Linked DNA regions of Homo sapiens: region 1 is linked to region 2. Evidence: fine-mapped expression QTL. Tissue or cell type: whole blood. Region 2 holds a variant in brackets; the other region holds the start of a gene. All regions are shown on one strand. Distances are between the middles of the regions. Region 1 holds the start of SDC3 (syndecan 3). Region 2 overlaps SDC3 (syndecan 3).

What was found. PIP is the estimated chance that this variant, and not a neighbour inherited with it, causes the effect.
Region 1: SDC3 starts here. The variant in region 2 is fine-mapped to the expression of SDC3 in whole blood (TOPMed, PIP above 0.99).

The regions. Positions count from the first base shown.
Region 1 is chr1:30,902,352-30,914,328 of GRCh38, forward strand. It overlaps SDC3 (syndecan 3), which reads right to left and starts at 6,407. Exons shown (of 5, transcript NM_014654.4): 1 at 6,098-6,407. The coding sequence starts at 6,235. RefSeq lists a silencer at 6,362-6,451.
Region 2 is chr1:30,866,742-30,878,718 of GRCh38, forward strand. SDC3 (syndecan 3) reads right to left here. Exons shown (of 5, transcript NM_014654.4): 2 at 11,882-11,977; 3 at 9,811-10,424; 4 at 7,556-7,847; 5 at 2,725-6,636. The coding sequence ends at 6,470. Among named protein-coding and RNA genes, the nearest start is that of SDC3, 36 kb to the right of the region's middle. RefSeq lists an enhancer at 3,795-4,666. The variant G/A (reference allele first, on the strand shown) is at 5,686.

The DNA.
Region 1 (11,977 bases), 36 kb after region 2:
AGGGGAGTGGCTGCCCCTCTGGCCATGGCGGGAGGGGGGCCGGAAGTGAAGGCCACCAGGCCTCCTGGAATCTGGGGAGGCTGGGAGCCAAGGGGAGTGAGGGTGTGGGGGGTGCCATCAACAAATATTTACCAAGAGCCAGCCCGATGTTCCCAGGATGTGATGTTATGGAGGACAGAGGCCTGGAGGGGCCAGTGAGACAGGTCAGGAAGTCCAGGACCCTGCTCCCTGCTGGGACAGGGGTTTGGGGGGATGATGGGAGCAAGGGCCTGGGGCCTGGGCAGCTCCTGGCTCTGGCCACCCTGTCCCTTGAGACACAAAATCAAAGGGCTCCAAGCAGCTGGGCTGTAGTCCAGAGCCACAGTCCCTCGGTCCTGCCCAGATGTGGTGGTGGCAGTGCCTTGGCACTCAGACTGAAGGCCCGCCCGATGCAGCCCCCTGGCGCCTCCCAGCCCACGGGCACATGCCTTGCATGCAGCAGGACTCTGCCAGCCTCACTGTCCCCAACCCACCTACACAGGAAAGGACACAAGCCCCTGCCTGGGCTCCATAGCTCACAGTCCCGGCTTCCTTCATTCCTTTATTCCCTCATTCATTCATTCATTCCTTTGAATCATTCACTCGAGCCTGCACCAAGCACAGAGTGGTCCCTGGGGGTTCAGTGAGAAAACATGGCAGCCACGAGCCTGCCCAGGAAGCTCAAAGTCTATCAAGAAAGCACTGACATCACTCCTGACAGCTGGGGGACCCCCACCAAGTCACACCCCATCTCTAAGCCTCAATCACTATGAGGCCAGAGAGAATCTTGGCTGCAATGGGGCCAGTGCTCAGAGATGGAGCAGGAGGAACACGGATTTGGCCTCCACACACTTTCTAAGGGCCAGAGGGGGTTAAAGGCAGGCCTGGTCACCTCTGCAGACTCAGTCCCCAACACTGGGGGCATCTGGCACATATCAGGGCTTATGGTGGCTTTTTAGACCCCTCTCATCCTGAGATTCCAAACATTTCCCCTCTCCTGTGCCCTGACCACATGACCCAGACATAAACTCCCTTCCGCATACACATGTGTGGGCACACACACAAATGTACACATGCACGCACACACAATCTTGCTGACAGCCCTTCGCAGTTTATAAAGCTCTCTCTCCCCACCCCATACACCCCCAGTGGCCCTCAGAGTAGCTGCTTTTATGGGCTACAGAGCCTTGGGAGGCGGTAGATGAGGAAGAGCCCTGGCCAATCCCTCCCACAGGGTGAGACAGCATCACTGACCTCCAGGGCTGTGGGAGAATTAAGTGAGAAAAGATATGGGACCAACCCCCTTCCCAGCCCCACCCCGCCAGAAGAGCAGGCATTTACTAAACAGTAGCTAATGCAGACATAATCCAGGGGGTAGGGAGGCCCCAGAGAGGTAAAGCAGCTTGCCTAAGATCACACAGCAAGAGGGGGTAAATTTAGGACTGCAGCCCAGTCCCATTAGCCTGTCAGGCCCTGGCTCATACTAGCTCTGCCACTTCTGGCTGTGTGACTTTGAGTAAGTCACTGAGCCTCTCTGTGCCTCAGTTTTCTCCTCTGTAAAATGGGGGTTCTGGCTGGGGGTTGTGGCTCACAACTGTAATCCCAGCACTTTGCGGGGGCCGAGGTGGGAAGATCACTTGAGGTCAGGTGTTCGAGAACAGCCTGGGCAACATGGTGAAACCCCATCTCTACTAAAAATACAAAAATTAGGCAGGTGTGGTGTCAGGTGCCTGTAATCCCAGCTACTTGGGAGGCTGAGGTGGGAGAATCGCTTGTACTCAGGAGGCAGAGGTTGCAGTGAGCCAGGATCATACCACCACACTCCAGCCTTGGCGATAGAGACTCTGTCTCTAAATAAAATAAAATACTAAAATGAGGATTCTAATAATTCCTACATCAAAAAATTATTGTAAGGATGAAATAAGCCGATACATGTAAAGTGCTTGGTGGGCGGGGCTCTCGGTAAACATGACCTCTCTCTCCCACTTGGGATGAGCCCCCCCTCGCTCTCCCCACCACTGCCACCACTCCTGCTGCCCCGGACCCCCCAGGGACCCTATGCCCGCTTGTATGAGGTGGGAGGAGCCACTGGGTTTCAAAAGGCCATTTTTTTTGTTTTTTGTTTGTTGTTTTCTTTCACTTTTTTTTCCAGCACAGCTCACCTCGCACCAACCCCCAACACACTGAACTCACAGCTGGAGGCATTGTGCTCACTCCTCCCCAGAGAGCAGGAGGCTTCAGGTTCAAATCCCAGCCCTGCCTTGAGGATAGAGTCACAGCCCCCAGTAGTGATTCTAAAAGCCAAGTATTTGTTGCCCCCAGTTGACAGGTAAGAAAGCTGAGGGTCAGGGCAGGTTACAGCCTGCTACTGTCATGTGATGACCACTTTCATTGCTTAGCTCAAAACCCTCCTCCTCCAGGAAGCCTTCCCTGACCCCATCCATGCTCCCTCCCAGAAAGGTCCCATCTCCTGAGAGCTCACTACGTGGCAGGTGTGCTCGGTCTACTCAAGCAGCTCATTTCCAAGTCACAACATCCCTGTGAGGCTGACACCATTACTGTCCGCATTTTATAGACAAGGACTTTGAGACAGAAAGAAATCCCTCACTGGAAATCACACAGCAGGTGTCTGTCCCCAGAGCCCCTGGTACCTTGGGAGCTAACAGGCAGCATACAGCTGTGGTGTCCCTGTGCCTGTCCCCCAAATGCTGGAAGGGGAGATGGTTCACCCAAGAGCCTGGCCCAGAACAGCCCAGGGGCCCCCAACTTTCCATTTTTTTGGTGAGGACTATCTCATCCTGGAAACCCAAGGCTCACAGTCACCCAGGGGAGCCTGGAGGGGAGAAGAGCAGGGATGCTTGAAACAGGGTGAGGAAGGAACGGAAACCACCAGGCCTGGGGCTGAGCTTCAAAAGAATTCCCTACTAATTCCCCCACCCCACCCCACCCCCACCCCCACCCCCATCCGTACTCTCTCTCTCTCACAAACACACACACACACACACACACACACACACACGTCTCCCACCCTTCCACTCCCCACCCCTCCTGCCTTCCCAACCACAGTACAGCAACTTTGTAAAAGAACAAGAAATCCATATTTGTTGAGCCCTTAGTAGGTGCCAGCCACTGGGCTAAAAGCTTTCCAAATTAAGCCCTTCCATTCTCGCATTGTCTCCATTTTAAAGAGGTGGAAACTAAGGCACAGAGAGGTTAGGTAACTTTCACAAGGTCACACAGCCACAAGGTAGTGGTCTCCCATCACTGGGAGTATTCAAACAAGACTAACACCTAAGATCCCTTCCAGCCCTGGACTTTTGAAAGAACATGTTTCAAAAGCTAAAATGTTCAGGATCCTCACACTCCAAAACTTTGAGTGGTGACTTAAGTACAGTAGCTGAGGTGGCCTTAAAGGCAGATGTCCCTCAGAGTCCTGGTAACTTGGTCTGTCAGAAGAGGGACTCCTCAAAGGAGATGCCAGGAGACAGACACAGACACACAAACACACACACACACACACACTGCAATTCACCATCTGCAGTGTGAATGAGGCCTGCTCTCCCTGCTATCCCCATGCTGAAAGACACGAAGACACACACACACACACACACACACACACAAAGGCTGGCAGGTGACCCAAGGGTCATCATGTCCCTGCCCTTCCCTGCCCTGTGCCAGCCACCGCTCATCTACCAAGGCCACCCCTGGAGCTTCCCTGGCTGGGGCTCTTCTGATCTAACCTCAGTCCCTCCTGCTGCAGGCACTGCCCTCTCCCTCTGGTGCGGAACCCCGGCAACCAGGTACCACCCATTAACCCTTTTCCTCCCAAGTCAGATGAGGACAAGAGGGATGATGCCCCTCCTTGACAGCTTGACCCATGGGAAGATGTGAGGCCTGGAGGACACTCCACTTCCCACCACCTCACCAGGCGCCCCAGTACCTGCCCTCCCCCAGGCCCCACCCACCATTTCAGCCTCTGGGCTCAGACTCCCAGGGTCTGCTTGATCTGCCACCCAACACTGGGTCTGAGCCACACCTCTCAGATTCAGGTCACCCGTGTTGCGAGGCCCTACTGTGCATGAGGCTATTAAATGCTCTCACTAAGTCCTTCCACCACCTCGTGGAGTATGAATTATTAGCCTTATTCAGCAAGGAAAGTGGCCTGCCCAGCGCTCCACCTGGCCTCCAAGTCTAAAGCTTTCTGTCCTGAGCCCCTTTCATTCATGTGCACACCACATGACTCCTGAGCTCCTTCTCAGGACACTCGTCAGTCATCCCATTGAATTTTTGCCCTCTGAGGAAGGGGTCATTAGCCCCATTTCACAGAGGGACAACCAAGGGTCAGAGAAGTAAGAGGACCTGCCCAAACCATGCCACGAATCGGCGGGGGTAGCAGGATTGGAACCCAGGGTTGTGTGATTCCCAAGCCTTTGATTTTAAGGATGGTCTTTCAGAAATTTGGCTGAGAAGGCGACCCCAGCTGCTAGGGTGTGCTGGGTCTCTATCCCTCCCAGGGACCTCTTCCTCTCACCCCACTTAGGGGAGAGCTGGGAATGAGACATCCTGGCCAGCAGGCACTTCACACAGGTCAGCCCTCAACACTTCCCCTCCCTCCAGCTGACAGCCCCCTAGATGGGGAAGGCTGAGGAGGGGCCTGTCCATCCAAGAAGCAAGCTTGGAGCCCCTGCCTGTCCTCCTCCTGTCTTACTGACTGGCCCACTGAGGCTGGGAAAGGGAAGGAACTTGCAGAGGGCGGCTGGGCACCCAGTGTTGCTTGAGAGGCCTGGGTCCTTTTCAGCCTGGGGGATGCAGGACAGCATAGCTCCTGGAACCAACCTGGGAGGCTGGACCTAGAAATCCCCAGCCCGCCTGAGCCAGAACCTGGACACTTGTCCAACAAGAACTCATCTGGGGCCTGGATCCCTCAAAGGGGGATGAGGTCCTTCCTTTCTCTGCCATCCCTGACGGAGCTGGGACCAAGCATGGCTGCTACGGTCACTCAAAGGGACACTCAAGGGTCACCTCATACATACCATCACCTCCACCTGCACATGCTTGGTTCCCCTCAGGGGTCCTCGTCCTATGTCCAGGGTCCCCCATGCACCTGCATGCACACGCTGCTATGTGCACTCACACACATTCATGGGTCCAAGCACACGCCCACCAGAGGTCTTTCACACACACACCCTCACCCACTGCAGCCACACACGGCCATAGCCAACAGTGGCCCAGCCAGGCACAGGCACACATCATGCACAATGGGTCACCCTCCCACGACCACGGACGGGAGGGCACGCTGGCATCCACCCATGTGGCAGACACATCCTTCACCTGCACACGCCCCACAGGTCCCCGCACCCCTCACTGAGTTGGCCACACACGCCCACACACGCCCACACACAGGGTTACCCTCACTCCCCCCTCAGGTCACCTTCACCAAGTCACCCTCCACCTCCACCTCCCCTTCCCGGGCCCACTGCCCTGGCCGGCTGCCGCGACCCTGGGAAGAACCAAATGCACACCCTCCCCTCGGAAGGGGAACCGATCCGATTCCCAAAAAGTGGCCATGGTCTGGGCACACCCACGAGGCAAAAGCCAGGCTCACTCCCACCCCAAGACACACCCAGCCGGGACGGCGACCCCCAGCCCGCCGCCGGGTCCTTCTCGCGCCTCCCAGGCCAGCGCAGGGGTCCCGCTTCGTCCCCGGGGAGACAGTTCCCGGAGCCACTGGGAGGTGGGGGAACAGGGCTGAGGACCCGCGATCGGGTTCCCTCCCGGGATTCCCTCTGGGGAGGGGTCCCAAAAGGAAGGAGAGATGCGCCCCCCGAAGATGACCAGCGGCGGGGGCGGCCTCTCCCCGCGGATGCCAGCTAGGGGGAGATTCCGGAGGGGGGGGAGCAGGGTGCAGAAAGGGGCGCTCGGGGGAGGGTCGAGGGGTGGCAGGGACCGCGGCCCCGGGGGAAGCAGCCGGGGGGGAGGGAGCGGGGTCCCGGAGGGGGGGTCGCGGGCGGGGACCGGCACCCCGCGCGGGGGGCGGCCCCGGGGAGCCGTGGCGGGGATCCGGGCGCGTGTCACTCACCCCCGCGGCGCGCCCCGCCAGCAGCAGCAGCAGCAGCGGTGGCAGGAGCAGCCCGCGGGCCCCGGGCCCGGCCGCGGCCCCGGCCCCGGCGCCGGCCCCGTGGGCGGCCCCGGCACGGTGCGGCGGCCCCGGCTTCATGGCGGCGGCGCGGGCGCGGGCGGCGGGCGGCGGGCGGGCGCCTTTGTTCCCGAGGCGCGGCGCGCGGGGCGGCTGCTTGGCGGCGGCGCGGCCCGGCGGCTGGACCGACGCGCTCTAGGCTCGCGGGCTCCCGGCTCGGCCGCCCGGCTCCGCCTCGCAGCTCCGCGCCCACAGCGGCCGCGCCCGCAGGAAGCGTGCGCCGCCGCCGCCGCCGCCGGGCCGCCCCCAGCGCGGGCGGAACGGAGGAGGGGCCCGGGGCGGGGCGGGCCCCAGTGCGCCCCCCGCGGGGCTCCGCGCCCTCTGACCCCAGTCCCAGCCCCCGCCCCCACCCAGAGGGAGCCCCGCGCTGCCGAGTGGGCACCCGGACACCTGAGTGAGCAGCCGGCCTCGCCGATCCCGGGGCTGGAGGTCGCGGAGCCCGCCGGACGCACCTCCGCGGCCGCCGTGCTAGGTAGAAGGGAAGGGTCCCGCGTGGGATACCAGGGCCCGGGCCTGGCTCCCTGAAGTCGCCGAGCGGAGGGGTCGCATGGGCGTTTTCATCTACAGCCTCCCCCTGTGGCTCCACGCACGTGTCTCTTCCTGGACTCCCATCGTCACCCTCACACACTCAGCCAGTCCACCCAGTGGGCCAGAGGTCATCCAAGACCACGGGCTTTCATGCCTCCAGGACACCCAGGGGCTGTGTGACCTCAGATCAGGGCCCGGCCCTCTCTGGGCCTCGGTCTCCCCAGGGGACCATGGGGGTGGTCACTTCTGGGCCCTGTCACTGTGGATCTGCAGAGGAAAAGCCACGCAGACCTGAGCGCAGCTGCTTCCACACCAGCTGTGCGCCTCCAGCAAGGCCCCCAGTTCTCTGAGACTCAGACCCCCCATGGTTGAATGGGACCACCCCCTCCAGTGCAGGATGGCGAGAAAAGTACATCTCTGAGTGGCAGTCTCTAGCGCTGGTGGTCTTTCTACCCTGTGTGGTCACGGTGCCTTTTCCCCCTTCACCTTCATCCCCAGCGGCATACCCCATGCTGTTCTTACTTCTCCAAGTCTCCAATGGCGTGTTAGCTCCAGCGGGGGCAGGGTTTTGTGTCTGTCTTGTTCACTGCTATGTCCCCAGCACCAGCACAGAGCTCGGCATGACATCGATGCTCAATCCAAATTTGCTGAATCAATGAATGTGTTTCCCATTTACTGGGGCTCAAAACCAAGTGTTTTGGGGCAAGATAGGGGAGAGTGAAACATTTCTGGAACCCTGACCACATGCCAGGTGCCCAGCGCTTTCATGTGTTATATCATTTCTCAGGAACCCCATAAGGTCGGTCTGTCAATATCTTCACTTCTTAGGTGGGGAAGCTGAGAGCCAGCAAGAAGAGGTTATTTGCTGATGACAGCTGGCTGGACGTCTCTACCCTCAGTTACTCTCCTCTCTGGCCCCTGTGTCCCAGCACCCAGCTTAGAGCCTGCCATTAGAAAATAGGAATGAAATCAGGCCGGTCGTGGTGGCTCACGCCTGTAATCCCACCACGTTGGGAGGCCGAGGCGGGTGGATCACGAGGTCAGGAGATCCTGGCCAACATGGTGAAACCCCGTCTCTACTAACAATACAAAAAAATTAGCCGGGCGTGGTGGCGGGCGCCTGTAGTCCCAGCTACCAGGAGGGTGAGGCAGGAGAATGGCATGAACCCGGGAGGCGGAGCTTGCAGTGAGCCGAGATCGCGCCACTGCACTCCAGCCTGGGCGACAGAGCGAGACTCCTTCTCAAAAACAAAAAAAAAAAAAAAAAGAAAAGAAAAGAAAATAGGGGAACGAAATTGAGTTGAAACTGGAACAATTCCCTCAAGGAAAGGGGAACCAAAACCAGGATGAATGGAGGGGCAGGCCTTGAGGAAGAGACTCTGGGGGACCAGCCATGGGTTTTTGGTGTTGGGGGTAACTGTACTTGTCCTGCAGGGCCCTTGGGAGGAGGACCAGGGGACAAAGGTCAACTCAACATAAAGTAGAGATAAATTAGAAGGGGCTCCCCAGGAGGGAGGGAGAGCCCAGTCCCTAAAGGGTATGAAAGGCAAGCTCACCACCCTTTGACAGGGATCCTGGACAGGGAAGACAGGGAGACTTTCGAACTAGGAATTCTGAGGTCCCAGCCTCTGAAAATTCAATTCTCAAATCTTTTGGCATGACATCAATGCTCGATCCAAATTTGACTGGCACCTTGGGGAGATGGGCAGGGAGGCTGATGGGGTGCAATAGGTGGGAAACTGGTTTCTGTTGAGGTAGCACAGCTTGGAATTGAAGAGCTCTGGCTCTGGGTCGGCCAAGTATCTGGGTTCAAATCCCAGTTCTGCCAGTTATGAGCTGTATTGTGTTGGATGTGTGACTTAACCTCTCTGAGCCTCAATTTCCCAACTGTAATATAGAGATAATGACCACGCAGAGTTCATTCATTCATTCATTTAGCAAGCATAAATTGGGTGCCTGCTGTGTGCCAGGCCAGGTACCAGGTTGTGAGGATTACATGAGCTCTTCCCTGCCATCGTAATGGAGTTCAATGAAGGTGGCTGGGAATGAAGCTTACAAAGGAAGGGACTCAGATGTAGGGATAACATCATCCTTCAGAGATGCTGAGCAGATCCCAGGAACATACCAACCCTGAGGCGCTCCCAAAGGGCCAGCAGGGTTAGGGTGGGGATTATGAGGAGCCAGATGTCAGCTGGCCACAGACAGCAGTGGCAATTCTAAGAGGCAGTAAGTATCCTGTCTTGAGAGGTATTCAAGGCTCGGAGAACTATCTAGCAGGGAGACCATTAGGATGGTTTCCATGAGTAAGATGGGCAGTGAGCATGGCCCATCTTCAGAGGTTCCTGCCAGCTCTGAGACTTCTGGAAGCAGCAACTCCACTTCCCTGACATCCTGGGGAAGAGGTGGGGGCGGGGCAGTGGAGAATCTTTGGTCTGGACAGGCCAGGAGCGCCACCTGCTGCTCTTCAAAGACACTGGTCACAGCCAGAACTAAGACAGGTCTGGGCCCCTGAAGGTCCTTCTCATCTTGCTCCCCCCGGGTCCCAGGTCTCCCTGGGGTTCACAGATGCACACATTTCCTGCCCTCAAGCACATGGGTCATCTGCACAGTCACCCTTGCCCAGGCCTCCTTGTGCATTGGAGCCACATCCCCACATACTCAGGGTCTCCCTTCATAGCACCATAACCTCACCCACAGGCACCAGCTGCTGCCGCCTCCTGGCACAATAGTCACAGCCCCCTCCGGCCTTTAGAATACACACTGCCTCCTCTGGGAAGTCTTCCTGATGTCCTCTGGGTGATCAGGCCTGGTCCTGTCCTGCCGGCATCCTGATCACACTCATCCTGCACTCCCCACCCTGCTTTCAGTCCCTACTGTCTGTCTTGCTCAAAAGTGGGAGCATTCAGTATCCCAAATGAACAGTAGCTATAGAAGGGCCCAAGTGGAGCTGATTATGGGCCAGGCACTGCTCTATCAAATGCACACTCACATTAGCCCCATTTCCAGATGAAAAACCAATACACAGAGAAGATAGGAGATATGCCGAGGCACCACGACTGGCAGTGAGAGCTGAGATCCTGACCCAGGCCAACAGTTAAACTGCAATGCCAGGCCCAGTGGTGTATTGGGAGGCGTTTGATGAATGAATTAGAGTCACCGAGGGGATTCACACAGTCACACACCAACATGCAGACATACTCATGCAGTCTGGCCCCTGGGGAACCCCACAAGGCACGCCTAGTGGCTACATCTCAACCTTTCCACCTCACCCCCACCCCAGTCAGAGCCTTCTCTGCCCTTGACAGGGCCTCCTAGCTCTAACCAAGCAGCAGAGGGGTGGGGACGCCTCAGCGGCATCTCTGAACTCCACTCAGGTGAGCCTAAGATGCCTTATTCAGAGTGGCACGCCCAGGCCTGACACAGAGTGGGTGCTCAGTAGCTGTCACCTGACTCTACCTGTCCCCCAGGGGATTGGCTAAGACAACCAGCTCTCTGGACCTCAACAGTCCCATGGCATCCTAAAAGCCAAGATTGATGGAGGCCTTACTACCTGCCAGGCACTGTTCTGAGCACTTGCCAAACACACCCTCATCTACTCCTCCCCACAGGCCTGTAATTTGGGCACGACAAGCAAACTTGCCTCCCAGGGCTGCTACTATGAGAACCAAATGAGCGGCCAGCCCTGGAGTCCGGCACACAGTGAGCCCTGTCCAGGTGCTTGCTCTCTACTTCGTCCCATTTCACAGCTGGGGAATCTGGGGCTCACAGGAGTTCAATAATTTATCCCAGGTCACCCAGCCAGGAAGTGGGCAGCCAGGATTTGAACCAGGCATGTGATGACAGAGCCCTGGCTTTTCACCCTGTGCTGAGCTGTCCCCCGTGGGCAGAGGGGACTTTATGATCCTTACCAGACCTCCCAAACACAAGTGCTGTCTCAGCTCAAGGCAATCACAGGGCTTGCAAAACAAGTCCCGGCCTCCCCTCGCCACCCCCATCTCCATCCTGCTCCCTCCCCACCCCAACCATCTCCCACCACAACTTCCGGTCTTGCCCAAGAGTCAGGATGGAGGCCACAGCCCAGGCTTGCTTCTGAGAAAGTCCAAGTGACAGCAGTCTTGGAGGTCAGTGACCCCCAAAACTGAGGAACCAAAACAGGGCTCTGACAAGAGGGCTCCAGATCAGGAGGATCCCAAAGTCCTCCTAGGGGAAGCTGGGGAGACTCAGAAGCCATCTGGTGCCCCAGTGAGTGGAAATCTCACTGGGGAAGGATCTGCAAGGCCTGTGGCCGGACCAGGGTGACTGGGAGAAGGCTTGGCCTTCCCACAACAGGGGTCCTCAATCGTGGGGAGCCTCCTGCCCGCCGAAGGGACCTGGCCCATATGAGGGTCTCACAGAGCCATGCCCCGCCCTTAGTACAGAGCCAGGCTCGGCCAGCCTTCCCTGACCTCCCTGTGTGCTGGGAAAGTCCTTGTAGGGTGAGAGGGTAGGTGACACCCCAGGACACATGGCTGCTAGACACAGGTTAGGATTTGAACTCAGGCCTCTTCCAGGTCTGTGAGCTGAGGGTTTGCAAACTGTAGATCCCAAAGCGTTCCTGAGGGCTGGTGGATCCCCAGGTTCCTCAGGGCTGGTGTGCGAGGAGGGGGAGTAATCAGATTTTGTTTGAGCTCTGTGGCCTGTAGGTCACAGAGCAAGGCCTGGGCTGGCCTTGTAGGAGGGAAGAGGCTGTGTAGACTCAGCAGGGCCTGTGGCTGAAGAAGCCCCAGATTGGCAGTCGGGGAGGGGAGCTGCTTGAGGGGAGAGGAGAGCTCTGGGACTCCAAGCTGGGTAGGGGTGGAAACAAGGTGGGTCCCACCTCTGTAGGGTCTGAAGCTTATACGGTTTGAAGGGATCTCGAGTACACAGTTAGGAAGAAGGCTTTGGAAAGCGGCTGTGCAAATGAAGGGCCCTGAAGCATCAGCTTCATTTTATGGCAAATGTGCCTCTGAATGGCCACCCACCACCCCGCCAGATACTATCGCCTGAATCCAGCAAAGTCAGAGGTGGACTGGGCTGGGCGTTGGCTCACGCCTGTAATCGTAGCACGTTGGGAGGCTAGGGAGGGCAGATCACTTGAGCTCAGAAGTTCAAGACCAGCCTGGGCAACATGGCAAAACCCCATCTCTAAAAAAAAATAACAAAACAAAACAAAAGAAAAAAAACACGAGCCGGTTGTGGTAGTGGGCACCTGTGGTC
Region 2 (11,977 bases):
CCTCAGGCCGGCAGAGGCAGGGTGGGCGGCCCTGGAAGCTGAGCACACTCTGTTCTCAGGGAAGCTTGGGCTGGGTGGCTGTGACCTCTTGGGCTGCAGGAAACAATCAGCTATTCTTCCTCCTTCCCTCTTGATTCTGTTGCTCATATCTTGGGTGAGGGGGCCCAGAGGGAAGTGCTCCAACTTCCAGCAGTGCCCAGCCTATCTGTGCCCAAATACATGGTTTCCAGGCTCTGCCCTTGGCTCTAACAAGCCTAAGTCATAGTTCATACTAGAGCTGACCCTGATAGTTTGATTTCTACCCAAGCTCAGTATCACTTGTTCAATCAATAGGCAGTGTGCTGGGCCCTGCAAATAAGAATAACAGTAATAACAATACAACAACAGCAGTAATAATTGCCCACATTTGTACAGCACCTACTCTATGCCTGCCATAGTTCTAAGCACTATGCATATGAGGCCAGTACTAGTATTGCCCCCATTTTACAAGTGAGGAAACTGAGCACTGAGTTTGAATTGTTCACCCAAGGTCACATAGCTAGTCACTGACAGAGCTAGGATTTGAATAAAGGTTTGCCTGGTAAAACGTAGGTGCTGCAAAGAGAAGAATAGAAATCCAGCTACAGATGGGCATGTATGCCATGCTTCATGCCTCCAAATACCAACCTTATTGTCCTCATTTGCCTTCAAGGAAATCGAGGCTCAGAGAGGTAGAGCAAAGAGTCTGCTTGACTTCAAGACCATGCTCTTTCTACTCCTCCAAGCTGAAAATAAAATCACATCACTAGAACTCAAGAGAGAAGGGGAGAAGGGTAGGAGGGAGACGGCGGGCTGACAGCACTCAGAAGATGGGGCATTGCCTTCTGAAGCTTCCTGAGTGAACAGCCACTCATGCTTGGCTTTGAATCTTGGTAAACCAACCCCTCACATCATAGCAGGTGTCTAACTGGCCCACTCCTGTGAGGACCTCCCAGTGGCAGGTCTGGCCCCTTCACCCCATTTTATAGCTGTGCAGACTGAGGCTCCAAGGAGTCAAACTGTCTGAGGTCCCACAGTGAGGCCCCGGGCACCAGGGCTCTGTCCCTGAACTGCCTAGCAGTGAGGGGCAATCTTGGTGGGGCTTGGAGGTGGCAGCTGAGAAAGAATGACCCCCCCCCTCCCACAACCACCGCCACCACCACAGACCAGTGTCATCACACAGTCACAAGACTCTGGTTATCAGCTATCTCCCGGATAGACTGTACATGCTCTAGGGAGAGGGGTCGGGGCTGTTGTGGGGACCCCTCGGCTCCCAGTTCCAAGCACAGAGCCAGGCACAGAAACTTCATTGGAAGGAGGGAGGGATGGGTAGGATGGTGTACCAAAGCCATAGGCCTCGGGCTCCAACCCACTCCCAGGGCCAACAGCACCCTGCCTATCACATATTAAGAAGAAATTTCTTTCTTTTTTTTTTCTTGAGACAGGTTCTCACTCTGTCACCCAGACTGGAGTGCAGTGACGCAATCTGGGCTCACCACAACCTCTGACTCCGGGGTTCAAGTGATTCTCCTGCCTCAGTCTCCCAAGTAGCTGGGATCCTGACCCAGGCACCCACCACCAAGCCCAGCTAATTTTTGTATTTTTAGTAGAGATGAGGTTTCACCATGTTGGCCAGGCTGGTCTCAAACTCCTGACCTCAAATGATCCACCCACCTCGGCCACCCAAAATGATGGGATTACAGGCATGAGCCACCACGCCTGGCCAAGAAGAAGAAATTTCTAGAAGAAATATTTGTAGGACATGTAGAGCTTTCCCTCGAAGGAGGGAATTTTGTGACTGTTACACCCATACCTGGGGGCTGTCCCATTGCAAGGGGCAGAACAATCTCGTGTGCCCCCAGGGCGTACGAGCACTGGAGATGGGCAACACTGGAAAGACAGATTTCAGCTGAAATTAGTAAGTACTTCCAAATAGGCAGGGTGGCCTACTGGCCATCGGGACACACCCAGCTGGCTGGGACAGGACTTATGCCAAGTGGGGGCTGGAAAAGGGATTTCTACACCAAGGAGGGCCCCAAGGCTGGCCCAGCTCTATGACCCTGTGATGTCAGGAGTCGGCCTGTGATGATTCTGGGTCACATTCTCCCATCCCAAGGTTCTATTCTGTTCCAACGCCATCATCAGAGCCCCTGTGAGCTACGTGTTGACTGTGGCAGGTGCCGTGCTGAGCATTCTACCTCATGCAGTCCTCACAACATTCCACGTAGGGGATATTCTGACCCCATTTGACAGATGGGGAAACTGAGACTCACAGAGGTCAAGTGGCTTGTCCAGAGTCAGCGCTAGGAAATGTCAACACCTGGACTTGAAAACAGACTTCAGACTTAAAAGCCATCTCGTCTCGTCTCGGCTGCTCTGATTCTGGTATCCTGTGGTACCAAGATTTTCTCTGTGGCCTAAAGCCAGAGTTCCCCTGGGGGTGAACCACAGGCCCCTCTCACCACTGCCTGGCCCCTCCCAACCACAGCCCCCATCCCAGCCTCACCGCAGCGGCTCCGTGGTTTCCTGGACACTCTCAACCAACAGCAGCTTTTACCATAATGGTTCCCACAAGGGGCTGTTGGTCAATTTTCCCTGCTTGGTTCTCAATTTCTTTGATGGGGGAAGATGGCTGGGGCCCAGGGTGCGGCCATGGGCTGCCCTCCCCAAATGACCATATTTATCTCATACTCTGGACACGGCACATCATTTCAGCTTAATTTTATTTCCTCTTATAAATGGGCACAGCACAGGAAGTGTTAAAAAAACAAACAAACAAAAAAAAAAAAAAAAAAAAAAAAACAAAAACAAAACCAGTTCCTTCACAAGGCTGGAACAGGAGAGTACCCGCAGTGGGGCAGGCGCCTTGGTCTCTTTTTTCCACTGTCTTTTTCTTTTGTTTTTCTTATTTAAGGTTTTGGCCATGAACTCAGGACAGGTATGGTTAATAAACAGGTTACAGGGGAGAGAAGGGGCAGGGAAGGCCTGGGGGAGGGAATGGCAGACCCCCACCCACCCCAGGCAGGTTCTGTACAGGAGAAAGGACTCACAGGAGGGAGGGACACTGTCTTCAGGGGGCTCTCTGGAGCCACGCTGCCTACGAAAAATATTTACATGCATTTGCCACGCTGAGGCCAGGGTCACTGTGGTGCCAGGCAGGCACCTGGGGGATGCTGGGGCCATCGGCTCTCAGATGGCAACTCCCAGGGCCCAGTCTCGATGCCTCTGTAAATCTGTACAGTTTGCGGGCTTCTATTTACAGGCAAGAGGCCTGGGGAGGCAAGTCCAGGGTTGTAGTTGTTGGGAGAAGAAATCCAGAGAACACAGGAGGCAGCCACTCCTACCCCATGAGGCAGAGGGTCTGCTCCCTGTGTCCAGGGGCCCCCACCAGGAGGCCTGACAGGCGGCTTTGCCAACCCCAGGGGGGTTTGGCCCACACACCCTAAGCCCTGCCCAGCCCTGGTTGCCACCCACATGCCTCCAGCGATCAAGGGGACCAGTCTTTCAGGCAAGGCCCCCATCTGGCCTCCTGGCCTCCTGGAGACAGGGTCTGGGCTCTCCAGGTCCTGGCCTGCCTCGTGCTCTGGCAGCCAAGGCCCCAGAGGCTCTCAAGCCACAGAAGCTCCCTCTCATTTGGAACTCCCTGTGCTTCCAGCAAATGCCAAAGCCCCTCAGAACACTCCATCACAGGCAGGGGTAGGGGGACATGAGGGCCCTGCACCCACATTGCACCTGGGAGAGCCTAGCTGGTCCTCACTGAACTCTCTTGGACTGCCTTGCCCCGGTCAGGCCGGCCAGGGCAGATTTGGGCTGGTCAGACTCCTCATCCTCAGGAGGATAAAGCCTGGACATCTGCCTTGGGTCCAGGGATCCATGAACAAGGCCCCTGGCCTCTTCTCTCAAATGCTAAGGACACAGAGAAGAGAAGCCAGTGCCTGGAGCCCAAGCCCCAAATCAGAAGCCAACCCCTGGGATGTGAGGAGCCAGGCCTGCCGGGGCCACCCCCACCATTGGCTCCAGCCCTACTGAGAAACTGCACCCACTGTTGGGTCTCCCACCTGGGGTCCAGCATCTTCTGGGGCTGGGGGCCCAAGCCCTTTTCTCCTCTATCCTCCCTGGTTTCTCAGCCTCGGCCTGCCCAGGCCGTCTCACCAGAGCTGTGCTCTCCAAGACAGCAGCACCCCAGGGAGCAGGGTAGGGAGGCTGAGCCTTGTGGTCTGTGGCCCCAGGACCCAGCCCTTCTGCTCCAAAGATGACTGAGGCCAACCCGCCCCCTCCAGATATCAGGGGCCCCCCATGCCCACTCTTCTAAGGCTGGGTCCACCTGGCTTCCTCACAAGCCTCTGGGCCCTGTGAAGGAGGGTTTTGGGACTGGAAGATGGAGCCCAGCCTGGAAAAGACAGGCTGTGGGACAGCCCCTGGAACCTCCCCCTCACTGCCTACACACCGCTACCCCTCATCCTGCAGAAATCTGCTGCCAGGGCATCTTGAAAAGGGCCCTGAAATAAAACCTGCCTTCCTGACTTGAATCTGGGATGTGGGTGAGGGGTGGGGGTGTGAGTGCCAGCCAATCGCAACTCACACCACATCCCTTTGGCTCCAAGAGGCCCCCTGCCAAGCACACCCTCCCCAAAAGATCTGTGACCCCACATTTAAAATACCGATGGAAATAGCCCTACTTGCTAGGTAACAAAGGAAGTAACCCCTCCCCCACTATCACCTGGTCTCATCCCTCAAACCCTGACCTCGGGGCCTGAGGGATCTGCAGGGGCTGCTTCCAGCCATGGCCCCTGAAGCTGCAGCCAGAATTGTTTGGCCAAATAGGTGAGGGGGTGTCCACAGGGAGGGCCTCTGGGCAGGTGGGCTGAGGTTGGCCTGCCAGGCAGAGGGCAGAGGGTGCGGAGGGCCCGCCCTCACAGGCACTTTGGAGACTTGTGTCCTGGGAGGCAGAGTCAGCCCCCTAGCTCAAAGCAGGAAGGGGACACAGGGAGATAAAGGAGCCCAACCACATGCCCCCTCCCTGCCCTGGGCCTTCCGTCCTGGGAGACCCAAGACCCCCCAACAACCTGGGGCCAAATTTCCTTCCTCAGCCTTAGAGGAGCCCCCAGGCTCCCAGCTAGTGGGGGTCTGGCCCCAAACCTCCCCCTCTGCCAGCTGCGGTGGGGAGGAAGCAGGTAGGGGTGAAGCCAGGCCCACCTGCATGCAATGCCCTAAAAGGGCTGTGGCCCCACACTTTTTCCGAGAAAGGCAAGGGCCTGCCTGTTTCCCTCCAGCATTGAGAGCAGGTCATGTGGAGTGAGACTGTGCATCCACATGGGATTGTGTCTGACACTGGCTGGGGTTGGCGGCTGCATGGTTGGTGTGGGCACCATGGCATGGGACTGAGTATGACGGGGCAACTTAGGGGGACCCAATATGGGCTGATTGTTCTGGCTCGATTCCACCCTCCCCAGTAAGCCTGAAAGCTGGAGACAATGTGTGTGGTGCCAGAGTGTGGGTGTATTTGGGGTAGGAGGAGGCCACACTGTCACTGTCATGTGACCATGACTAGTGACTTGCATTGCAGTACGTGTCTGGGGGTGTGTAAGTGATGCATGAGGATAAACATTCTTGGAAGGACGCGTGTGTTCTGTGATATGTCTTGATTGGCTGGGCGGTCAGGATTGC[G/A]TATGGTTTTGTCATTGCATGCTTTTGTCTTGTGTGTGACTGAGTGAAAATATGGTGATAGTGTGGGCAATGGTGTCTGTGCAGAGTCCCCTCATAGGAGGGACATCAGAGCAGCCCCTCCTCACCAGTGGCTGCCCCAGCACCCTCAGGAAGCTGTTTCTTGGGGGAAGATGCAGAAAGAAATGAAGTCTGGGTACATGTGTACTTGGCAGGCAAGAGGAGAGATTCAACAACCCCAGAGAGACCAGGACAAAACAGGCTGGTGACAAGGGACACCCTCTCACCCAGCTAGAGAGAGGCCCTGGGATACGAGCAAGAGGTTGCAGTGTCTAGATGATTTCAAGGGCTGTGTTTACCAAATGTTTGTCCTGGAAACCAGCCTGAGTGCCTCTCTGCCCCAAAAAGGAGATCTCAGTGAGCACTGTGGGTGCCAAGTCAGGGCTCAGGCTCATCTCAAGCCCCACCCTTTCTTCCACCACCAGCCAATCAGGAGCTTTCTTCCTCCCATCCATCTGACATGAGGTCCTGAAGCCCCAGACTGGTGGCAGGGATGAGGGGAACAAGAGATGAGCTCGTAAGGGCACAGTCTGGGGCAGATGGCAGCAGCCCCTCTTCCTCGGGGAAGATCTGTGTGAGGCTGGCAGCCTGGGCAGACCTTGGGAGAGAGGGCAGAGAAGAACTGGGGCCAGGTTCCAGGCCCAGTCCCAGGCTTGGGCTGGTGGGGCCAGGCTGGGGACTGGACAGCAGGGTGGTGTTGAGGCTGCAGGGAGGCACTGTGGCTCCACTAGGCATAGAACTCCTCCTGCTTGTCAGGCTTCTGGTATGTGACGCTCGCCTGCTTGGGTTCCTCCAGCGTGTAGCTGCCCTCATCCTTTTTCTTCATACGATAGATGAGCAGTGTGACCAAGAAGGCAGCAAAGAGGGCGCCCACCACCCCGCCCACAATCACAGCTGTGGAAGAAGAGGGCACAGGTCAAGGCCCAGAGGCAGGGTAGAACCAGGGCAAAGGGTCCTCAGGGGTGGGGGCCAGGGTGAGGAGAGGGCTGGGAGTCCCAGATCTGAGTTGGAGTGATGATGGAGTCAATACTACTACTACCAGCACTGGGTACCATCATAGGCCTTCACTGGCTGCATTCTAATCGCCCAACACACTAACTCACTGAACCCTCACACCAGCCCTATGAGGGAGGGGTCATCTGAGGGCTTCATCAAATTTAAAATGCCACCACTCATAAGATGCCCCAGTATTTTATAACTGCTAGGAAAGAAAAAGCTCTGCTAACTAAATATGACATACCCCAACTACAGAAGACTTAACATGTGAACAGATGTGCCTCTTAGAATTGATTAAGGGCAAAATGACTATCCCCATTCTACCGATGAAGAGAAGGAAGACTGGAGAGGTGAAGTACCTTGCCTTGAGTGCAAAGCCAGGATTTGAACCAGGAGTCCACAGACTCCCTAGATGCGGCCAGGGCAGGTCCACAGGGACTGGGGTCAAAAACTGGGGAAGGTCAAGCTGAAGGATGGGTCAGAGATTAGCATCTAGGAAGTAAGGTCCCAGGGGGTCAGCCAGTGTGGCCCAGGAAAGCAGGGATCAAAGTCAGAGTCCACAGAGGGGTCAGAGGACACTGAGGGAAGACCTAGAGATGGACATGAAGTCAGGGTTGGATATTGGGAAGGAGGAAAGTTGGGAGGAGCCAGAAGGCAGGTCCTGGGGGGTTGAGTTCTCAAGTTTCCTTCCTATCTGGCTCCTAGGAAACCACGCCCTGATCTCCTTTCTGGGTTCCTAGAGGCAAACTGAGGCCCAGCCAGCTGTCTCACTCTGGTATCCTCCCAGGCTCCCCTTGGCCCAGACCCCAAGCCTCACCTACGAGCACCTCCTTCCGCTCCAGGATACTCTTCTGAGGCAGCTGAGCAGCTGAGCTGCCCGAGTCGATGGCATTGTCCAGGAGGCCAGGGCCCGGGCGGGCACCCTTGGGCAGTGTCCCAGGTGGAGATGATGCCTTGGCCGCAGCCCCTCCCACAGCTACCACCTCATTGGCTGTGTCTGGTTGTGTGGTCTCTTCTTCTGGCAGCTCGAAGTCTCCACTGGGCCCCCCACTCACCGGAACCTCTGGCTCATCCCGGATTGTGGTCAGGAAGGTCTCTGGAGTTGGGGTCTGCAGAGAGGGTGGCATGAGCCCAGGACAACCACACATGCATGCATAACCCCCCACCACCATCCTACTGCCCTGGGGGGCTAACACTTAGCACTCCCTACATGCCAGGCACTGTGCTACACACTATCCCCATGAAGGAGTGTAACAATGCCCCCAGTTTACAGAGCAGGAAGTCAGCTCAGAGCATAAATGACCTGCCCAAGGACACACAGCTAGTAAGTGGGGGACAGAACTAAAATTCAGATCTATCTGTCTCCACAGTCTGTGTTTCTAACCACTAACACACTGCCTCTGTTCTTGCTCTGGACATCCTGTCCCCCTCATGTCCCCTCCAGCTGCCTTAGTAACAATCCTTGGGGGATTCCTGCCGAGAAGCTGTTTGGGAACTGCTGGGTGCAGATGCTATGGATGTGGGCCTGGTCCCAGTCCATGCCTAAGGCAGGGGAGCATTCTGTAGCCTGGAGGCCAGTCCAAGAGCACAACCTGCAGACTATGATGGCCTCAGGGGCAGGTGTCCCGGAAACCAGCTCAGTGACTGACAATCTCTAGGGCTCCCACCACTCGGAGGCAGGATCAGAGCTGGGAATGATGAGACCAAAGTGGGGGCTGTGGGAGCCATCAGAGCAGGGATGTCGCTACTTCAAAGGTGGGCATGGAAAGGCAGGCCTGATGTCCAGGCTGAAAAGAGGCTGCAGCAGTGCCCCAGCGTACACAGCGTGCACAATGGCTCCTCCAGCAACCTGGGCCCTGTGCACCTTCTCCTGGGCTCCGTGCCCCATCACTGTTTCCCCTTCCTGCTTGGCCAAGTCTGTGTGAAAACACCAGGCTGCCCCAGCTGCTTGAGGAGGCAAGGGAAGGGCCTGCATCCTGCTAGAGCTGGCTGGGGAGTCAGAGGGACTGACACTGACCCCAAGGCAGCGCCACGGCCCAAGGGCCTTCCACAGTGAGGCCAGCTGCAGAGGGCTCTGGCACCCAGTCCATGTTCCCACCTCTCCATCTTACTTAGTGCACCCAGCTGGGACCAGACCACCTCTCTCATGTCCTTGGGATTCATCCATCCCTGGCACTCCTGACATCTTCATCCTCTTCCCATCAATTCCCCTGCCCCATCCAGAATATCCCAAATGCACACACATGCAGCCCTGGCCCTGCGAGACTGCCCGGCTCTGGCACCAACTGCCTGGGTTCAAATCCTGACTGTCATCGCTGGCTGCGGAGCCTTGGGAAGTGGCTTCACCTCCCTGTGCACCCACAGTTGCTCGTCTGTAAAATGAGATGACCACAGTGCTGCCCGTGGGGTGGGCATGAGGGCTGGGGCTAACACAGGTAAAGTGCTGAGCACTGACCCACACCCAGGCAGCCCTCCACAAGGCGAGTGATGCCTTCTCATACACCAGCTCTTAACCACCCTCAGACCCATGATAATAACAACCGTGATGACGACAGCAGCTGAGAACCCACTGGCTGTACCATCACCAGGCGCTGTTCTAAGCACTGTGGATGTCAGGAGACTTCACGCTCACAATGAAATGATACACATTCTATTGTTTTCTCCTTTCCGTAGATGAGGAAGCGGAGGTATAGAAATGATCAGGGACTGGCCTGAGGTCCCGTGACTAGGAAGTGGCAGTGGAAAGATTCTAATCCAGCTGCCAGACCACTGAATTAATTCTCTCAACCGAAACACTCAGCCCGGCCCCCCTTGTCACCAATGCACACGTTCACCCAATTCCTTCCCCACCAATGTCCCATCCCATTAGGATCCAACCACCCCAGCCCTCGTTTTCTGTCCCTCTTCCCTCCCTATCCGATCTCTGTCCCTTGGTCCTGCCCCTCGCCCCCACTTTGTCTGGCTCATCTCTATAGCCTCCTGGTCCTCAGTCCTGTCCAGCCCCATCCTCCTCATCCCTCCCCTGACCCACCCTCCTCCGCCCTCCTCCCTGTCCCTTCTCAACACCCTCACCTGAGCCACCTCTGTGGGTCCAGGGGCAGTGGTCCCCAGGGGCAGGGTGCTCCTCTCAGGGATGTCAGGCTCCTGGGTGGTGGCCGGCCTGGGAAGGGCTCTTGGCCGGGAGGTAGCTGTGCTGACCAGCCTGGGTGTTGGGGCCTCGGTGTCCAAGACAGCCGCCGTGGTGGGCGGGGAGGGCGCCTCGGGGGTAGTGGCCCGTGCCGTAGCCACTGTGGTCAGTGGGAGAGGCAGAAGCCTCCGTACGCCAGTGGTCCTTATAACAGCAGTGGTGGCCGTAAAAGGGGGTGCTGCAGGGGTGCTGGGGGTGGCGGTGGCCACTGTGGCAGGCACTGTGGCCACAGTCGGGTCCCCTGTGCTTGTGGCAGCAGTGGTAGCCATGGTAGTGGAGACGGTGGTGGCTCTCTGGCTGGGCTCTTCCGGGACTTCTGTCACCACCAGGGGGCTGGTGGCTGGCTCCAGGGTGGGGCGCTCAGAGGGGAGCTCTTCAAATGGTGTGCCCACAGGCTGGATGTTCGTGGTGGGCAGCACCGCAGGTGTGGTGGACACCGCCAGGGCTACATCTGGGCTGAAGCGCATGGCTGTCTCAATGCCCGACTCCTGCTCGAAGTCTGAGGGGGTGGGGGAGAGGGAGAGAGCTAGGGAGCTGGGTGGTTGTGAGGGGCATGAGGATCCCAGGTAAGCAATGGCCATCAAGATTAGGTCTCCCAACCCCCTCTCTTTACCCAATTTTCCCAGAAAAGATGAGAGAAAGGAGGAAGGCACAGCCCAGCTAAAGGTGGTCAGTTGCTGATGTTCCCCAACTTCTCTCTGCCAAGTCAAAAATTCTGGGGGCCGCCTCTCCCGGGAAGCCTTCCTTGACTATTCCTGCCCACCCAGCCTACAGTTTCTATGAGGTTGAATCCAGGCAGCAGCAACTGAGGCGCTACTGGCTGCAAAACTTGCTGGGGCTTGCAGGGGAACACAGGAGTGGCATTCTGGGAAGAGTCAGACCCCAAAGGCACCCCTACCACAAGCTCAAGGCAGGGGTGGTACACTAAGGGCTTCCCCCAGAGGCAGAGGCGGAGGGTAAAAGGGAAAAGAAGCCCTTGAGGCAGGGGAACTGCTTGAGCAATCTGGCTGACGCAAAGCCGGGACAGTGAAGGAACTTGGGAGGAAATGAGATGGGGAGTAGGGGATGGGGGAGGGAGAAGCCACAGCCAGCTCCTGGGCTCGGAACCAGGCAGGAGGGAGGGGAGCCAGGGAACTTTGCGAATAGAGATGTGACCCAATATAAACGGGTTTTACAAAGATTAATTTGAAAGAGGCTCAAAGGACTTGGCTAAGGAGGGGAGACCAGAGGCGAGGGCTGTGGGGAGCCAGCTCTGTGGCGTGCAGACCCCGTACCATCTCCTCAGATGCCAGCCCGTGCCCTCACTGGGCCCAGTCTCAGCTGCCTTCTTTTTGCTACCATTTTGAGAGCTCCTCCTCTGTGCCAGACCCCAGCTTCCTATCCCAAACCCTCCTAGAGGCACTGAGAAGAAGTCGTATTTCTCACCATCCACAGGTGAAAATACAGGGATTCAGGGAGGGGGAGCACCGAGGGGCACACAGTTGCTACATGGCAGAGTGGGGTTCGCGGTGCCCTTCTCTCCCGAGATTCTGCTAGACCCAGCTGACCTGGCTCCCCTTCCCCAGGGCGGGGCCATCCCAGGCACCACTTGAAGCACCTGCCCTGTGTCATCACTGCCCTAACCCCACCATTGGCCACAGCTTATTGCACCTGACGGGACCACCGGAACCAAGCAAGGTCTGCAGAGAAAGCCACATAGCACACACAAAGATGCAGACGTGGGACCCTGGAGACCTGGACATTCTGGGCCCTGAGGTCCTCCCAGGTCTTGTTCTATCCCCAGAAGGATGTTCTGCCCTTCTTGTTCTGGGGATCCAGAGCAAGAAGAACTTGCCTGACCCAGGCAGTGAATGCCCCCTGCCTCACTGAAGCAAGCCCCCCGTGGGCTTCTCAGAGTTGAGGCTGGATACAGACTGGTCACTGCCCCCAGGCAGAGGTAGGGAGGGGGGTACTTACAGCCCGAGCCCGACCCCGAGTAGAGGTCATCCAGTTCATCATCGGGAAAGGAGTCATCATCCCCAGAGCCCTCCAGGTCCACGGGTCTCTCGAAGT